Linked DNA regions of Homo sapiens. The protein of the gene in region 2 interacts with the protein of the main gene of each other region in a biochemical or structural test. Each region holds a gene or a part of one and is shown on either strand. Other genes may lie near its edges. The genes, in order: RXRA, CTSL and SERPINB3.

What was found.
Region 1: of the proteins of CTSL (region 2) and RXRA, one has a biochemical effect on the other in vitro, tested with the Homo sapiens proteins (one study listed by BioGRID).
Region 3: the proteins of CTSL (region 2) and SERPINB3 form a complex in vitro, tested with the Homo sapiens proteins (2 studies listed by BioGRID, with this or other methods).

The regions. Positions count from the first base shown.
Region 1 is NC_000009.12:134,427,339-134,434,455, reverse strand, and holds part of RXRA (retinoic acid receptor RXR-alpha), read right to left. Parts: intron 5,349-7,117; coding exon 5,216-5,348; intron 2,552-5,215; coding exon 2,460-2,551; intron 355-2,459; coding exon 249-354; intron 1-248. UniProt on the Homo sapiens protein: Receptor for retinoic acid that acts as a transcription factor.
Region 2 is NC_000009.12:87,721,816-87,729,208, forward strand, and holds the start of CTSL (procathepsin L isoform 1 preproprotein), read left to right. Parts: upstream 1-4,303; 5' UTR 4,304-4,583; intron 4,584-5,545; exon of another isoform or gene 5,546-5,653; intron 5,654-5,778; 5' UTR 5,779-5,788; coding exon 5,789-5,914; intron 5,915-6,211; coding exon 6,212-6,334; intron 6,335-6,434; coding exon 6,435-6,581; intron 6,582-6,769; coding exon 6,770-6,994; intron 6,995-7,393. UniProt on the Homo sapiens protein: Thiol protease important for the overall degradation of proteins in lysosomes. Plays a critical for normal cellular functions such as general protein turnover, antigen processing and bone remodeling.
Region 3 is NC_000018.10:63,654,619-63,658,932, forward strand, and holds the end of SERPINB3 (serpin B3), read right to left. Parts: intron 4,013-4,314; coding exon 3,895-4,012; intron 2,795-3,894; coding exon 2,652-2,794; intron 2,369-2,651; coding exon 2,213-2,368; intron 1,444-2,212; coding exon 1,039-1,443; 3' UTR 579-1,038; downstream 1-578. UniProt on the Homo sapiens protein: May act as a papain-like cysteine protease inhibitor to modulate the host immune response against tumor cells. Also functions as an inhibitor of UV-induced apoptosis via suppression of the activity of c-Jun NH(2)-terminal kinase (JNK1).

The DNA.
Region 1 (7,117 bases), about 47 Mb from region 2:
GAAGCACCTACTATGCGCCAGGTGCAAGGTAATCCTTCCAGTGGGGATACGACGTGGGCCTGTGGGGTGTGCCCGCCACAGCCCACTGGCCTGGAGGACCTCCTGCTGCCTGCTCAGGACCTGCTGGCATGGGCTGGGCCTGGGGAGGGTGCCACCTTCTCATTCACATAAAATGGCCTTGCAGGGGGTGGGGGCTCTGGAGACAAGAGCCTGGGTCTGGGGTGTGTGTGGGACGGGGCGGGACCCACCTTCCCGGCTGCTCTGGGTACTTGTGCTTGCAGTAGGCCTCCAAGGACGCATAGACCTTCTCCCTCAGCGCCTCCACCTCGGCCGGGTTCGAGAGCCCCTTGGAGTCTGAAAGGAAGAAGCCACAGGTCAGAACCCTCAGCTGGGGCGTGTCTCGGGCACCTGCCCCCAGGACCCAGGCTTGTGTGGGGTCTCCCAGGCTGCCCCACCATGGGCAGAGCAGGTGGTGGAGGAATGCCGCTGGACATGCCTCCGCCCGCTCCCCCAGAGCCTGGTGGCAGGGGGACGACTGTGGAACCCACGGCCAGGCCAGGCTGCTCTGGGTCCAGGCTCAGCTCTGCCACTTGCCAGCCACGTGACCTTGGGTCAACTATTTGACCTCCAGAGACTCGGTTTCCCCATCGATAAAGTGTCAGGGATCTGCTGCCTTCCTTCCAGCCGCCTTGGGAACTGGGAGAGACAATGGATGCTGCTGCTGCCCTTGGGTCCCAGCCCCATAACATGGATGGGAGATAGCGCTGCTGCCCCCAGGAGTACCCAGACCCTGCGGAAACCCATCCTCGGTGTGCTTGCGGAGTCCTGAGCTCAGGACCCGGGCTCAAGAGCCTAGAGTGGACAGAGAGGCTAAGATTGCAGCCACCAAAACCTCCAAGGCCCAGGGACCCCCTGTGAATGCCACCTTGGCCCCCAAGGCCCAGGGACCCCCTGTGAATGCCACCTTGGCCTGTGTCCTGGGCTCCTTGGCAACGTACCTGGCTCCCCCAGCTGCCTCCGCTCCAGCCAGTCTCCTCGCCCTCCCTGCATGCCTGTGCCCTGGTCTCTTCGCTTTCCCTGCAAGCCTGTGCCTGGACCCTGCTTGTGCCAGACAATCTCACCCTCCCTGCAAGCCGGTGCCCAGGTCCTGCTGGTGCCCCAGCTCTAGCAACCAGACCACACAGGACCTGAATGGGGATTCCTCGGGCCGGGCCGGGCCGTGGCATGACTCAGCCTCCGAGCTGGCAGGATTACGGCCCGGATGCACAGCCTGGGTGATAAAATGACCCTGGAAACAAGCTCTCCCCACAAGAAGATGCCCATCTCCATCCCGGCCCGGTCCCTCAGAGCCAGGTCTGACAAAGGGCAAGGTCAGAAGGTCAGGGCCAGGAGCCGAGAGGGCTCCACTCCCTCCACCATAGCCCAAGTGAGCTCCCCACAGCAGCCCCAAACCTCTCCCTCCACACCCCAGCCACCTGCCCCTATCACGCAATGAGCTGAGTTTCCAAACACAGAAACCCATAGCTCCCTCCCGGCTGGAACCCCTCAGGACTTGGCTCCCTGTGGCCCCAAGAAAAAACCCAAACTTAGCAAGACTTTCAAGGCCCTGCCTGGGCTGCCTCCACCAGCCCACCCCACCTCCGTGCCTCTCACTCCCCTGGCCCCTAACTTGCAGCTCCCGGAGGAAGTGGCCCGCACCCTCGACCAACCGTGCTCCTGCCCTCACGTGCCGGGGGTGCCTGCTGGTGGGCGTGACCCTCTAAACCCCAAGCTCTAGGCAGGCAAGCCCTATCCAGCAGCTTGAAGGGGCCCTCCCATGCCAGCAGGGCACCGAGCAAACAGGCACGTGTCAGCACTTGTTGGGCGAAGGAGTAGCACCTAGGAGGCTTTTCAAGCCGAGAACCCAGAGGCTGGAGAAGGGCCGCACTGTCGGCCAGGAGGCCTGTGCCCAGCCCCAGCCCCACAGCCCCAAGCCCTGCTCTCCTCAACCACAGGGGCCCAGCCCCAGAAACACCCTGGACCCGAGGCTTGGGGATGAGGTTGGTCCCCTCTGGAACACCCGGCAGGCCTGACCCATCCCCAGCCTGCAGGGCTTGGGACTCCTGAACTTCAGCACCGGAAGTTCACAACCACAGCTGGCCACTTTCGGAGTCTGGATTCCGACGCACAGTGATGAACACTATGAACCGCGGAGCCCAGACGGCACCACCAAGCCCCTCATGACAACTGCCTTGCTGGGTCCCCCTGTGCCCAGGGACCATGCCCCCTTGGCTGGCCCTCAAGGTGAGCAGAAGGCAGCATGGCCACACTTTCACTGGGAGGGGGGCACACTGAGCTCAAGGAGGGTGGGAGTTGGCCCCACATGTAGCCAGAGGCAAGAAGTACAGCCAGGAGGAGGCCCAGGCACCTCTGCCCCACCAGAGAACGGGGCCAGAAGCCTCAAGGCAGGAAGGCCATACCAGGGTTAAAGAGGACGATGGCGCGCAGGCAGCCCAGCTCCGTCTTGTCCATCTGCATGTCCCGCATCTTGGACACAAGCTCCGTCAGCACCCTGCAGAGGAGGAGGGCAGACACCCCATCCCAGTTAGGTCGCAGCCCTCACCAGGGCCACACCCCAGATACCCAAGGCCTCTGGAGAGCCCGGCGTGGCCCGAGGGCCGCTGAGATGGGCCAAGCCAAGGCAAGGACTCCCAGACACCCCGAGAGGGAGTGGGCTGGAACCCAGGCCCAGGTGCCGCCCCTGCCAGGCCTGCCTGGCCCTGCCCGGAGGGTGGGCTCCTCTCCTCTCCCTCTAGGGTCTGCCTGCGGGGCTTTATTCTGGGAACCGAGGTGCTAAGGAGGGGCCTCGTGACAGCTAAACTGAGGTGAGCCGCAGCTGCACAGAGGGCACAGAGTCCACCCCTCCCGAACCCAGTGAGACACACCACTGTCCCTCCTCAGCTGTGGACCCAGCACCACCTGAGGCAAAGCCCCTTCCCATGCCACAGCCCCAGCCGCTCCCTTCAGTCCAGGAAGATACCTTTCCCCAGGGCCTGGTGTCCCTGGGTGGGGGCTGCCAGAGGGAGGCATGTCTACTTCTTGTCACCAGAGAAAAAAAATCCACCAGCCTCAACACGGGGAAAGCCCGCCAGCTCCCTCCATGGAGACGCTGGGGGCGTTCTTGGATTCAGACTCAGCTGCCCCAGCCCTGCAGCTGGATTCTGAATCACACCAGCCTCTGCAGTGTACTGGGCCCCCTAGCCTCAGCAGCCTGCCCACCAACCCCAAAGCTCAACTGCTGTGTCCAGGAAGTAAGGGTGGGCCACAGCGGGGGAAAGGAGGTGACCAGGTGGGGATGGTTGCCTAAGGAGCCTGGGCTCTCCCCTGTGGGCCAAGGGCGGCCCTGAGGGTCTGCAGAATGGGGAGTGCCCTGGTTGATTCCTGGAAGAAGATCTGAAGGAGGCTGGAGAACAGGGTGGGACAGAACAGGAGCTGGGAGGGACCCCCGATGTCTGCTCTGAGGCAGGAGCACACAGCTGCAGAGGGATGGGGCAGCGGGCATGGAAAAGACCTGGGCCACTGAGGGCAGACTTTGCATTCCACTCGCAAAAAAGGCGAGGAAATGCCGGGGCCTCTGTAGTCACTGCTGTGGGACCCCAGAGAATGTAACCCTGAAACCTCTGTCATCGCCATCTCTCTACCAGCCAGACAAAGGATCTGTCAGCTGGGCAAGTGGCTGGGGCTTCGCTTCCCAAAGCCATATCCCCAGTACCCCTCTAAAGAAGCTTCTGTGGGCAATACACACTGCACACTGCACCCTGCAGCCCCCGTGGGGACCCTCCTGTACACTAACTTCTTAAAGGCCCTGACAAGTCCTGCGGCAAAGACCCTCAAGGACACTGTTTGAACTACCGTTTGCCCACCGTCTGCGGCCACAAACCCTTTTGCACTTGGCACATCCCATGGAGGTCAAGTTCCAGGATCACCCTTGGGACTCTGGGACCTGAACCACCCCCTGGGGCATTGCTGCTGGGGCATTAATCCCCCTGTAAGTGCCGGTGCATGGCCTCTACTCACCTCTAACGTTGGGGCTCTCGTGTTCAGGGGCCACGTTCTCCAGGTGGCCTGCTCCTCCCCACCCACGGCTCCTGTGTTGCAGACCCCTGCCCAAGGGACCCCGCAGTGCCCCTCCCCAGCCTTCCCGCTCCAGCTGAAGCTGACATCCGGTCCCCAGAAGGCCCAGTCTGGTGTGTGTGGCTCTCTAGACTCGTGGAGAAAGACTGTGCAGAGAGGCCGGGCGCGGCGGCTCACGCCTGTAATCCCAGCACTTTGGGAGGCCGAGGTGGGCGGATCACGAGGTCAGGAGATCGAGACCATCCTGGCTAACACGGTGAAACCCCGTCTCTACTAAAAATACAAAAAAAATAGCCGGGCGTGGTGGCGGGCGCCTGTAGTTCCAGCTACTCGGGAGGCTGAGGCAGGAGAATGGTGTGAACCCGGGAGGCGGAGCTTGCAGTGAGCCAAGATTGCACCACTGCAATCTAGCCTGGGCGACAGAGCGAGACTCCATCTCAAAAAAAAAAAGGCTGTGCAGAGACAGGGACAAGGAAGCTACTGTCCGCCTCGCCTGGCAGAGCGGAGTTGGCCAGCACTCCAGGAGGGCAACATGAACGGACACGGACCACCCAGGCCCGGACGAGGGTGGGCCCTCCAGCCAGTGCTGCTCCTCCAGTGTGTCCCCTGAGAAGTGGCTGAGGTGCAGCCCTTTGCTCCACTGGGAGGTGTGAAGCACTGCGGTCCCGACACCCCTGCCTGCACGGGGACAGGCGTTAGGCCGCACCACGCCCCGGGCTGCCACGGCATTACCGTGCCAGCCTCAAGCAGCCTGCGACATGCCAACTGGAATTGACACTTTTACAAAACTGCATCTACGGTATAATCACTTTAAAAAGAAACGAAGCTTTCCTTCCCACGGATAAATACATGGGATCGTGAAAAAAGAAGAGATGGAGGGAGATAGGCCAAGTGCTCCCTGTGGTTACAGATGCCCCAGAGGCAGGGCTGGCACAGGGCTCTGAGCCTCCTCCTCATGCTTTTCTCTTTTTCCATGTGTGCACCCTTCATGCACTGAAATAATACTAGGCAGGATGTGCACCGGGGCCAAGGTGGCTGAACTCAGCTGGCCTGGTGGCGGAGGTGACCGAAGCGCCCTCGCCCCTCCCGGGACCACCCCCACCTGTCAAAGATGGCGCCCACCCCTGCGCTGTGGGCGCTGTTCCGGTGGACGTGCAGCCCGGTGGCCAGGAGGATCCCGTCCTTCACGGCGATGGAGCGGTGGGAGAAGGAGGCGATGAGCAGCTCATTCCAGCCTGGGGAGGAGGCACACAGTCACTCAGCTGTCTCCAGGCCCCACGGGGCTCGCCCCTTCCCCAGCCCCTGGTGGGACCCTACAGAGGCAGCATGTCACCGACCCATCCTGACAGGCTCTGGAACCCCAATCCCATGAAGTGTTCCACAGAAAAGAGGTTCCTGAGAATGCCCGTTCTACAGTACACACCGGCACACGAAAGGCCCTGAGAAGTCCCACACAAAGTCCCTTGAGCTTTGTGGAACCCGGGAGCTCACAAACTCATGTGCCCCAGAAGCTTCCTCCCGCGTGTGCAGGACACTCCTGCCACGGAGCACGTGGGAGAGCACCCAGGGATGTTCCCAGGATGGCCCCAGAACCACTGCTGCCAGCAGGGTCCCAGGACTCTCGGGGATCTGTGTGCCCTTCGTGGAATGCCACCAAACAGCAGGTTATCCAACTGAAGGCAGGTGCGTGAGAGCCGCAGCCTCTTTCGGGGGGATTCCCAGGGGGGAAGGTTAGGTAACAGCAGCCCCTCAACATAGTGGGGGTTCCCTGGGGCGGGTGGTTAGGTAACAGCAGCCCCTCAACATAGTGGGGGTTCCCTGGGGCGGGTGGTTAGGTAACAGCAGCCCCTCAACATCGGGGGGTTCCCTGGGGGGTGGGTGGTTAGGTAACAGCAGCCCCTCAACATAGTGGGGGTTCCCTGGGGCGGGTGGTTAGGTAACAGCAGCCTCTCAACATAGTGGGGGTTCCCTGGGGGGCAGACAGTTAGGTAACAGCAGCCCCTCAACATCAGGGGGTTCCCTGGGGGACAGTTAGGTAACAGCAGCCCCTCAACATAGTGGGGGTTCCCTGGGGGTCAGGTGGTTAGGTAACAGCAGCCCCTCAACACAGTGGGGGTTCCCTGGGGCGGGTGGTTAGGTAACAGCAGCCTCTCAACATAGTGGGGGTTCCCTGGGGGGCAGACAGTTAGGTAACAGCAGCCCCTCAACATGAGGTTCCAGTGCAGATGAAGCAGAGCAGGCATCGGGGAGGAAGAAACAGGGACCCTCGCGTGCACACGCACTGCTGTTTTAAGGGCTCCTGGAGACCGGGTGACGTGGAATCACCTGCAGTCACACAGTCAGGGACCCTCGCGCACACACGCACTGCTGTTTTAACAGCTCTTATAGACAGGGTGACATGGAGTCACCTGCAGTCACACAGTCACCTTCAGCACCTTCCACACTCCCTGAGCGCTCTAGAGGCTCCAGCCTCTATGGCCGACACTGTCATTAATTTCCCACTTAATCCCAACTGTAATCCTGGAAAACTGGCATTAACTTTGTTTTACAGAGGGGGAAACTGAGGCATGAGGGGGTAAGTGATCAGCAAGAAGTTGGTGGGGACCACCGTGCCAGCTCCGGCTCGGCCCTCCACACCCTCCCAGCACATACCCACCCTGTCATGGGGAACCCGGGGGCAGGTGTCACCGTCCCCATTCTCCCCATTTCACAACTGAGTAATCCCAGGGCCCCAGGAGGGAGTTCCCACCCCCGAGGCCGCCCCGCCCAGGTGTGCTGACAGACCAGGCAGGGATGGCACCCAACTGGCCCCAGGCTGTGCAACCAAAATGAGGGAGGAACGGTGGGGTCTGTGCCCCATCACCGTGGGAGCATGCAGACGGCACCACGGGCGGTCTGATGGAAAAGCCAGGGCTGGAAATACCGTCACAGACTCGGGACTGGCACCTCCCCGCCTGTCATGCATCCCCTCTCCCTGCCAGGTGGCAGCAGGCAGCCCGTTGCG
Region 2 (7,393 bases):
CACCCCCAGAAGCACTTTGCCGTGTAAGACATTGTCTATGGAACATCAATGTCACTTAGGGCCTTGGAAAGACATTCAGGAAGGGAGTTACTACGCCTGAATTTCTGGAGATGTGTTTAGTAGGGAAGAATTCACTATAATCCATGAATGATTGATTGATTTCTAGAAAGGCTCACGCATGTTTCTTTTTGCCACTCAGGACTGGACCTCTGAATCAGTGCGGAATATGAATGAGAGCGGTCAGGGGAGAACTGGAGGATGCTGGTGGAGGCTGGAAGGCTTGCAGTCACCTGCCTGTGCTTATCTAAGTGATGAGAATGTAGGAGCAGCAGGACCTGGCCCATCACTACCCTATGTTTGTTACAGGAGAGAGGACCGTCCTCCCACAGGTCAGAGCTATTGTTAATCAAGGTGACAGTGCAAGATGCATTCCCACTCCTGACTTCTCGCTGTAAATAGGTTTCCTGAGTGGTGTTGGTTTATTTTCAATTTGGAAGCCAGTTCAATCAAATGTTTCACTAGATTCAAGTTTGATGAAAATACTAGCAAATCCCCCAACTAACGAGTCACTATAAGTAACTCAAGGCATCAGTCCTGCTCCCCACATAAGGGAGTACTGGTCCTGAGGAAATGGGACCACATATATAGGGAACAAAAGTGATACAATGGGCCATGAGGGTGTGATGAGTATCCCAGTGATTGCTTTGGGTAAATTTTGCTGGCCACATCGGTTTCAGTTCCTCTACATAGACAAGGAAATGCTCCTCATGACCGACAACAGCTCCTCCTGCACCGAGGCTGTCTAGTCATTAGAATGGTCTCTAGAAGACAATATCATCAGCAATCACTGCTAGCAAGGAGCTGGCTTCTGTGGTACTATGTTGTTGCTAATAGTTTTTGTTAGAGCAACTGCATTGTGGGAGACCTGATCCAGGGAAGGCAGAAACCAAAGCCTGTGCTCCCAAGGAGGTTATGGAAAATGAAGAAAAACACCAGCCCCTCTGCAGGAGGAAGCTGGAAATGGTTGGAAGGACCACCCATGGCTAGAGCCCCAGCACTTGGGTCATGACTCACCCTGGGTAGGTCAAGTACAGGCCCCACTTCTTCAGGCCTTGGTTGTGGATCAGACCCTGGATTCTTCCCCTCCGGGTACAGCCCAGTTGCCATGATGCTCCTTGAGTCAATGAGCTCTTTGGTCTGATCTTCTGCTCAAGCAAAGAAAGGGTCCGGCTTCAGTTCTCAGAGGCTGATAAGTACCAAGGTGGCAGAATATGGGAGTATCCTGCAGGTGCTCCCAGCATCTGCCCTGGCTCAGGTGCCAGAGGCTTGCGATTTTCTAGCTCTTGACCTCACACCCTCGATTGTTTGTTTTCCAATTCCTTCCTGAATAACGGGGTGAACATGCCACCCCTCCTGGTGGCGAATGGGGTTCCTCAGAACTGGGAGGCCACAGTCCAGATTCTGAGGCTCTTCACTAAGCAAGTGCTGGAGAGCAAAGCCACTCACTCACAACTCTCTCTCTTTCTCTTTCAAATTTGGGGAAGGGGAGGCCATCTGAGCAGTTTCTCTCACACTCCCCAGTAAGGAACTCATGAAGGACCAAGTGAGCTCTAAGCCCCCGGTAGAAACATTCAGCTGTTCCAATGAACTTCTTGTGATCCTGAAATCTGCAAAGTTAGAACCAAGGCAGACGTAGGTACTCCAGTTACCTAACACCACAGAAATATTGTTTTTATTTCATAAAATAATAAATTTAAATACTGCTATGGTTTCCTTGTTTGCCCCCTCCAAAACTCTTGTTGGAACTTATCTCCAATGTGGCAGCATTAAAATGTGGGGCCTTTAAGAGGTGATTAGGACATATGAGCTCTTCCCTAATGAATACATTAATCTATTCATGGAATAATGGGTTCATAGACCAACAGGTTATCTTGGGAATGGGACTGATGGCTTTTTTTTTTTTTTTTTTTTTTTTTGAGATGGAGTCTCGCTCTGTCACCCAGGTTGGAGTGCAGTGGCGTGATCTCGGCTCGGCTCATTGCAACCTCCACCTCCCAGGTTCAAGTGATTCTCCCGCCTCAGCCTCCCAAGTACCTGGGATTACAGGTGTGCACCACCACGCCTGGCTAATTTTTGTATTTTAGTAGAGACAGGATTTCACCCTGTTGGCCAAGCTGGTCTCAAACTCCTGACCTCAAGTGATCTGACTGCCTCGGCCTCCCAAAGTGCTGGGATTACAGGTGTGGGCCACTGCGCCCAGGCAGGACTGATGGCTTTAAAAGAAGAGGAAGAGACCTGAGCTAGGACACTCAGCCCTCTCGCCCTGTGATGCCCTACACCACCTTGGGCCTCTGCAAAGAATCCCCACAAGCAAGAAGGCCCTCACAAGATACACTTCCTGGACCTCAGACTTCCCAGCCTCGAAAACTGTAAGAAATAAATGTTGTTCTCATAAATTACACAGTTCCAGGTATTCTGTTATTAGCAACAGAAAAGAGACTAGGACAGATATCACAGTTAGATTGTATTCTACACATTGTGACTGGTTCTCCAGAGAAGCAATGCATAAAAAGAGGAATAATCGGCCGGGCACGGTGGCTCACACCTGTAATTCCAGCACTCTGGGAGGCCAAGGCAGGCGAATCACGAGGTCAGGAGTTCAAGACCAGTCTGGTCAATATGGTGAAACCCCATCTCTACTAAAAATACAAAAATTAGCCAGGCGTGGTGGTGCGCGCCTGTAGTCCCAGCTCCTCTGGAGGCTGAGGCAGAGGAATCACTTGAACCCAGGAGGCAGACATTGCAGTGAGCTGCGATTGCGCCACTGCACTCCAGCCTGAACAACAGAGCCAGACTCCGTCTCAAAAAAAAAAAAAGAGGAATAATCTCCAAAATAGTAAACAAATTCCTGCAGACAGGAAATATAATGGTAGATACCTGAGCTAGGAGAGGGGGAATGGGGAACTATTATTCAATGGATACAGTTTCAGTTTAGGAAGATAAACAAGCTCTGGGAATAAACAGTAGTAATGGTTACACAATGTGAAGGTACTTAATGCTACTGAACTCAAAGTTGGTTAAAATGGTACTTGCTATGTGAGGTATATTTTACCACTTAAAAAACTATAGGTGATTGTGCTTCTAAAAGAGTTATCAGTTTAATCTTCAATAGAAATCAATGGACTTTGTTCATTTTTAACAAAGTCAAAATATGCATACGAAAAGGTTATGGGGTAAAGGCAGAGGTAATTATTTTTTTCCCCGAAAGGTATTTTCTACAATGAATGTTTTTATGTAATAAAAAATGAAATGACAAAAGTTTAGAATGTTTGTGGGTTTTGTTCCTTAAATCCTTAATTACATAAATTAATATCTACATTATACAGATTAAGATACATATTTTTCCTCTATCTACAACATTTCTCCATTCTCTGTATCTTAAATCCTGACATTAAATGTCATTAAATTTCTTAAATCTCAAGAGAACGACTTGGTTACCAAGGAAGATATAATCCATAGCCTAGAGAGTGGGCGAATAAAAGCAGCTTCTAATGTTCTCAACTGCTTTTCTCCTGTCAACCAAATGTTTCTGTAAATAACTCATTTCTGTTGGTTTTGGGTAAGACGTGGGAGAAGGAAGAATCCCTGAATGGAGGAGTCTGGAAAGGATGCTTGACAAAACGCCCGCGCTCTCTGGAGACGCAGCCAGTCTCCTCCCTCCTAGGGTCTGGTCTTGACGATAGCATCTCGTGTTTTGGGGATGCCTTTCCTTACCAGATTCTTCTAAAGCCCAGCTGCACCCACCCTTAAGTGGGAGATAAGGCTTCTGCCCGCGGGCTCTGCGTTCGTCCACCCGGCCCCACGTTTGCTGTGGACTAAACAGGAGCCACTGGACTAGAGTACACTTGACTCTCGGCTCTGCGGACCAAAAATTCCAGGACTAAGGAATAGCAAGGTTAGGCTGAAACAGTCCACACAGGGCTTGCGGTAAACGTCTTTTCAGGAGCCACTCGCCCAGTGCAGTAAGTCGTGTACTTAGTTGACTCGAGCGCTCCAGGGAGACGCCCGACCCTACTCTGCGCCGCCCCGGGGCACCAGCTCTGCTTCCTCCAGGTCCACTGAGGCAGGCACGCCCAGCTCTGGGACAGTCAGTAAACAAGCCACGAACCGCGCCAGGGATCAGAGCACCCAGAGTCCCCGCCCAGCTGCCGGCACAGCCAATCGCAGCGCAGCCAGGCGGCGGGGCGGTGCCGGCCGAACCCAGACCCGAGGTTTTAGAAGCAGAGTCAGGCGAAGCTGGGCCAGAACCGCGACCTCCGCAACCTTGAGCGGCATCCGTGGAGTGCGCCTGCGCAGCTACGACCGCAGCAGGAAAGCGCCGCCGGCCAGGCCCAGCTGTGGCCGGACAGGGACTGGAAGAGAGGACGCGGTCGAGTAGGTGTGCACCAGCCCTGGCAACGAGAGCGTCTACCCCGAACTCTGCTGGCCTTGAGGTGGGGAAGCCGGGGAGGGCAGTTGAGGACCCCGCGGAGGCGCGTGACTGGTTGAGCGGGCAGGCCAGCCTCCGAGCCGGGTGGACACAGGTACCGCAGCCAGGCCGCGCCGCGCCGACTCAGGGCCTGGCCCGGCCAGACAGGGAAGCTCAGTCCCCGCACGCCAGACAGCGGTACTCCTGCTGGCGTCACCGCAAACATCCTCTGACCGCTACAGCCAGTGTGTGGCGCAGGCGTCATGTCCCCGGCCCTGCCACGCCTGGAGCCCTGGAAGCTGGCTGCAGGGCGCTGGCTTCCCGCGTGCGGCCATATGACCCCGTCCCTGATTTAGGGGAGCAGTTTGGGGTGTCGGCAGCACAGGCCCAAGTGAATGAAGGAGGGAGCAGTGCGTGCTCTCCTTCCCAGTTTTTCCTGGGAAAGCATTTCAGAAAGGTTTCATTTAAGGAGAGGTTGGGGCGGCGCGGTGGCTCACTCCTGTAATCCCAGCACTTTGGGAGGCTGAGGTGGGCGGATCACCTGAGGTCAGTAGTTCGAGACCAGCCTGGCCAACATGGTGAAACCCCGTCTCTACTGAAAATACAAAATTAGACGGGCGAGGCGGCGCACGCCTGTAGTTCCAGCTATTCAAGAGGCTGAGGAAGAATGGCTTGAACCCGGGAGGCAGAGGTTGCTGTGAGCCGATATCGCGCCGTTGAACTCCAGCCTGGGCCACAGAGCAAGACTCCATCTCAAAAAATAAATAAATAAATAAATAAATAAATAAATAAATAAATAGGAGAGATTGGAAAACTTATCTCAGCTTTTGGTGTTTGTTAGTCAGGAAGATGTGTGAAGGCCTCCTAACTCTTGGGGATCTCTTTGTCCCTACTTGGGAATCCCACCTTATCATTAGTGAGGTTTTGCCTGGGCACGAAACCTGGATTTTTTGCGATTGGTACAAAACCTGGATCAACCGTTTCCCGGTTTCCTAGTTGTTGCCTTAAGCTTCTCACACACAAGGTAGTTTCATACCGTTCTCATAACCTAAATTGTCATCGCATAAACTGTTTCAGCTCCTACAGCTCTGGACAGGCTGCTTTTCATTTTGGTGAGTCCATCCAGTACCTCCACGTGCCCTGTTTTTCTCCAGGCACATCCTTGGCCTCTTCCACAGTCCTTGGGTAAATGCTTGGGAGAATAATTTAAATATTTTTATTCTACCATGGTGGCCCTAATTTTTCAGGGGGCAGTAAGATGGCTTTTTAGGATTGGTCTAATCAGATCCTCATTTTTGTTCCCTTCCTAGGTTTTAAAACATGAATCCTACACTCATCCTTGCTGCCTTTTGCCTGGGAATTGCCTCAGCTACTCTAACATTTGATCACAGTTTAGAGGCACAGTGGACCAAGTGGAAGGCGATGCACAACAGATTATACGGCATGGTTAGTGAAACTTCCCCAGAAAGAATAGTCCTGGCTGTTGAGAAGTTTTAGTCAGAGAGTAGCTTCTAGAGGCCAGCTTTTACCAATAGCCTAATGTAATAACCTAATGGCGTGGATTATGAGCACAATGTGGACATTCATCCTTGTTGTGTCTCAGTTTGGAGAACAGCATCCCCAGAGGTGTCAAGCCTTCCCTTGCCATGGTTTCTCTTCCATCTCTGTCTGCAGATTCACTTGGTGAGGATGAGTTGGGTTTTAGGTAGAAGTAAAGAGCATCAGTTACATGTTTGCCTCTAGAATGAAGAAGGATGGAGGAGAGCAGTGTGGGAGAAGAACATGAAGATGATTGAACTGCACAATCAGGAATACAGGGAAGGGAAACACAGCTTCACAATGGCCATGAACGCCTTTGGAGACATGGTAAGTGTGCTGTGGACTGCCGAGCTCTGTGCTTCCTCTCTTCGGTTCTTTACTAAGGTAATCTCTTGCTTTTCAACATTTTATTTCCTTTTCCTTGAAGACCAGTGAAGAATTCAGGCAGGTGATGAATGGCTTTCAAAACCGTAAGCCCAGGAAGGGGAAAGTGTTCCAGGAACCTCTGTTTTATGAGGCCCCCAGATCTGTGGATTGGAGAGAGAAAGGCTACGTGACTCCTGTGAAGAATCAGGTGAGACAGTGTCAGGTTCAGACCTCCCATCTTCCCAGGAAAGCCAAGAAGTGATTGACATCTTTGTTTTGGTAGACTTTAAAGTGATGTACAGTTCACTTTTTAACAGTATTCAGATGTGTGAGCTGTTGTCAAAGTCTTATTATTTTTTTTTTGTGGATGACAGCTTTTTTTAATTCCCTTTTCAGGGTCAGTGTGGTTCTTGTTGGGCTTTTAGTGCTACTGGTGCTCTTGAAGGACAGATGTTCCGGAAAACTGGGAGGCTTATCTCACTGAGTGAGCAGAATCTGGTAGACTGCTCTGGGCCTCAAGGCAATGAAGGCTGCAATGGTGGCCTAATGGATTATGCTTTCCAGTATGTTCAGGATAATGGAGGCCTGGACTCTGAGGAATCCTATCCATATGAGGCAACAGTAAGTGGAGCTCCTTGTCATCATTCCAGCTCAGCTTTTGGAAGGTGGACACTTTAAGAGATAACAGATACCTTTTTCGGAATTCATATATTAGGGCTGGGTGGGGTGGCTCACGCCTGTAATCCCAGCCCTTTAGGAGGCTGAGCCAGGCAGATGGCTTAAGCTCAGGAGTTTGAGACCAGCCTGGGCAACAAGGTGAAACCTTGACTCTATCAAAAATACAACGAAAATTAGCCGGCTGTGGTGGTGTGCGTCTGTGGTCCCAGCTATGCTGAGGTAGGGCGATTGCTTGAGTGTGGGAGGTGGTTGTGCAAATGCACTCTCCAGTCTGAGTGACAGAATGAGACCCTGTCTCCAAAAAAAAAAAAAAGTTCACATATTAGATGGCAGAATATATAT
Region 3 (4,314 bases), on a different chromosome or scaffold from region 2:
CAATATCTTCAAGTACCTGCCAGGCAAATTCATTTGAATATTAAAAGTACCTCAATTCATCAAGTACAAATTTAAACCCATGGTCTTTTTTTTCTCTCAAAAACAACATTTTCTTCCATCCTTCCAGTCAGATAGCTCAGAAACTTAGATGTCTTTTTTTAACTATTACTTCCTAAATAATTCTGCCAGGCTGTTTCTTTCTCTTCATTTCCACCCCCAATACTCTAATGATTTCCTGATTTATATATGGTAACCACACTGTTCTTTCCTCTCATCCATTGATATCAGAGTAACCAGAGATGTATTTTCAAGATGAAGATATGATAATTTTATGCCCCTCTTTGACAAACAACCATCAAAGCCTGTAATGAGTTTCTTATCCCTTTAGCATAAAATAGGAAGTTCCTAATGTGGTTTACAAGGCTCCTCCTGTTCTGGGATATGCCTTCTACTCCAGGCTCATCATGAACTACTCTGTTTTTAATTTTCCTTTGTTTGTGATTAATATATCTCTAAATTGTCTTTCCTGTGTGTAACTGGACACTTTCCCTTTCCAGAGAGAAAATGTAAAGCAAAAATGATTTTATGTCACTATTTTATTGATGATGTGTTTTATAGAATCACAAAATTTAGAAACATAAGAAGGATTTAGGTATCACCTAAATTCAAAGAAATGTGTGTTTCTAGGTTGCTAAATTCAAAGAAAAAGTATGATTTGGTTTGGTTCATTTAAAACAGGTCACAAACAGAATTATATTTCAAATTTAGAAGATACGGTATTAAGTGATTCATCTTATTTTGGACATTTTTCCTCAAGGAGAATTTTTCTGGAAGAAAAAGTACATTTATATGTGGGCTTATTAAGAGAAAGAGAGAAAGGCATGCTATTTTAATCATTAAATTCTTGATGATGACGATCATCATCAAGATGAGAAAGAAAAGAAATATGAGCCAAGAGAATCTGTTGTTGCCAGCAATCAGTTTACCAGAACATCTGCAGGTGAACATTTTCCAAATGGAGTGACAGACTAATTGCATCTACGGGGATGAGAATCTGCCATAGAAGAGGATGCTGTTGGTCTTATTTTGCCTTATGAAGAATAGGAAAGGGTGATTACAATGGAACTCTTCATTAGTTGAAGTAGGTGATGATCCGAATCCTACTACAGCGGTGGCAGCTGCAGCTTCTGCTCCCTCCTCTGTAACCTCCACAAAGGCCTTGTGTAGGACTCCAGATAGCACGAGACCGCGGCTCCCGGTCATGCCTGAGAGGTCTGCATCCCCATTGAAGATATCCACCATTCCCATGGTTCTCAACGTGTCCTTGAGGTCATAGCTCTCTTCCACTTTGAACCGAGGTAAGTGTAAATCGACACGTGTCTCTCTCATATTCTGCAAACTTGTCCATTCCATCAATTTCTCAGCAGTGAGTTTCTCTTCAAGCTATACAAATGGAAAAAAGAAACTGATATGACTAACTGTTGATTTCTAATACACCTTAACAATGAATTGACTATGTGGAGAATCCTTATTTTGGCAACAAATGTGAAATACAGAAGGTTCACTTTATTAGATATTATTATTCTAATAGGCAAAATATGAGTCCTGGATATATAAATACATTGGGTTATATGTGTATGTGTATAAACAGAATCAAGTTTTTATGTATATGTAATGTGTACATATGTATGTATACAACTGTATGATACACATGTAAAAATATGATTACATTATTTTGTACACAATGAACTATATATATCACTATTTCTTGTGCCAACAGCCTACTACATGTGTCAATTTTTAATAGGCTCATCTTATTTTTCTGTATACATTATTTAGTACACATTGCAATTATTAAATTGCAATTCCCCAAATTCCTAAATTTCTATTCCCTTTTTTACTTGGTGTATTCGTAAACTTTCCTCACATTGCTATATATTTCTCCCAGTCAAGTTTAAATTGCTGCATAATAATATCATTAAATTGATATCCAATGCATGTAACTCTAATAAATTAATCATTAACTATGCCTTCAGTTTGTGTCAGGCCCTATGCTTAAATCTTTGTAATATGAAGGTGAGTCATCATTCCTCATTTAGAATTTTTCATTATTTTGAGGCAACTCGGTCACCAGCTTTTACCTTGTTTAAACTTGGTATCTTTGGAAAAATGTCAGGCAGTAGAAGGAAGAGTTGTAGATGCAAGTTCTTACCTTCTGGAGACCATCGATTTCATTTGGCAGCAACACAATCATGCTTAGATCTTTGCCTTTGTATGGTATTTCCAGGACCTTGGCCTGTACATCCTCCAGCGAGGCAAAATGAAAAGATGTGTATTGCCTCATCATCTGTATGGACTTGTATGTATTCTACAATAAATCAATGTGTCCAACAAATACCAAGTGAGACACAAGGCAAAAAGATAATATTATTGAGATATCAACACATCCTTCTTTTAAGAAATAATCCAAGAATGTAATGAGTTAGAGACAATAGCTTCTTCAGGAATTCCTAACTAAATAAAGTTATAAGACTAAAACAACAAAAAAACAGACATGAACAATTTTATTTTTTACTTGTCATGGTACATTCCATCAGAAATGTTTAAATTTATTAACATATTACATTATATAAATAAAATATAGACAATACCTTGTTTGGCCAAAATTTTTCCTCTTTAGTATCTTCTTTATTAAATTTCTTCTCCCACTGCCCTTTGAAATAGATTGCGTTCACAAGAACCAATGTGGTATTGCTGCCAATATTACCTTCAGGAATTAGGTTTTTAATTTTTTCTGCAAGGGAAAGAATAAAAGAGTCTTTTACACAAGCTACAAATGGCTTGTCTGGAAGATGCTTTGCAAATGTTCGTGACTGATCGTTAATTATTGACCCAAATCCCTACTTGAGACTCACTGACTTTGATCTTTGAATTGTTAGACTCACTGACCAGTGGTTCACCAGATGCAGCTTTCTTCAAGGCTCCAGTCGTATAAAGTTGCCCTTAATGGAGACATCACTTCTTGTGATAGAGAAGGAGTTCACGTTCTCTGTGTATGAATGAGTCCATTCATCTGATTTGGAATACTGATAAACTGATTTTGTCTACTCTTTCAACATGTGTCTTTCCTTTCTCCCTCCCTCCTCTTCCTACTTTTTTTTTTTTTTTTTTAACTACGGGGTCCCCATTCAGAGGAAGTAGGCCCTGACTGCTTTTTAGGACAAGTGACATGAGCTCTGTAATATGAAACGCATGTCCTGTGCTGTCAGACACTACTTCCGGGGGTATCTTCCTATTCACTCTCATGTTGAGTTGCTGTAAGTTTGGCCTGTAATGAGAGGTGGGAGGTAGGATAGATGTCTATAGAATGGAGAATTTGTTAAGCTCTTGCCCTTGATGGGGAAGAGAGCTGTGATAATCCCTGCAGAACTTGTGGCTAGAGATGTGATCCAGGCAGCTCTAGTTCAGATGGCAAAAGGGTGATTTACCAGAGAGCTGCTTGTTTCCCAATTAGTAAAGGGGAAGGGAGATGCTTTCTAATGTTTCCTTTTAAATATTCATCATAAAATATTGGTTCTGATTTAAAGTAAAGGACATGATCTCAAATTGGACCTGAGTGGAGACAAGGGATCCACAAAGCTATTGTCATCCAGGAACATGAGCAAAGAATCCTCCGGCTATGTTTTCTTCTAATTGGCTTCCTGTGATTTCCTCCTTGGCTCCCCTAGGCTCTCTTCATAATCATTTGGAAAAACTCTTCATCTGGAGTGCCCTCTTCTTCCCTCCCTGCAAAGCCATCTCAATTCCCACCCATGGTCCCCCATGCAGTTTCAGGCATAGGGCTCACTCGCATAGATTTCTCAAAGGTGTTTCTATAATGGGTGGCTCTCCTACCATTCGTTTGACTTTCCACCCAGGAGTTAATCTTCTTTCGACTTTCTTCTGGAGCATTTGCAAAATCAACAGATTCCACACTGGTCTGGTAAAATTTCTTGATGGCATCTAAATATTCCTTTGAGATATGAAGGAAGAAAGTAGGAAGTAAGAGTAATTTATGTAACTATATATTACCAAATTTAGTTATTTATAATTATAGTAAGCTGAATCCAGACCCTGAATAGATGCAGTATCTCCTGTCCATGCATATTTTTATACTGGTGCCATGTAGGCAATGCAAAAGCGGAGTGCGGGCTGGCGCAAGAAAGAGGTCACCGAAGGTCAATATCATCTGGCAAAAGGCAGAAGCAGAAGAGGCTGTGGTTTGCAAACTGCAGAGCAGGCTTCCCTGAAGGAGATTCATTGCTTCTCAGACCT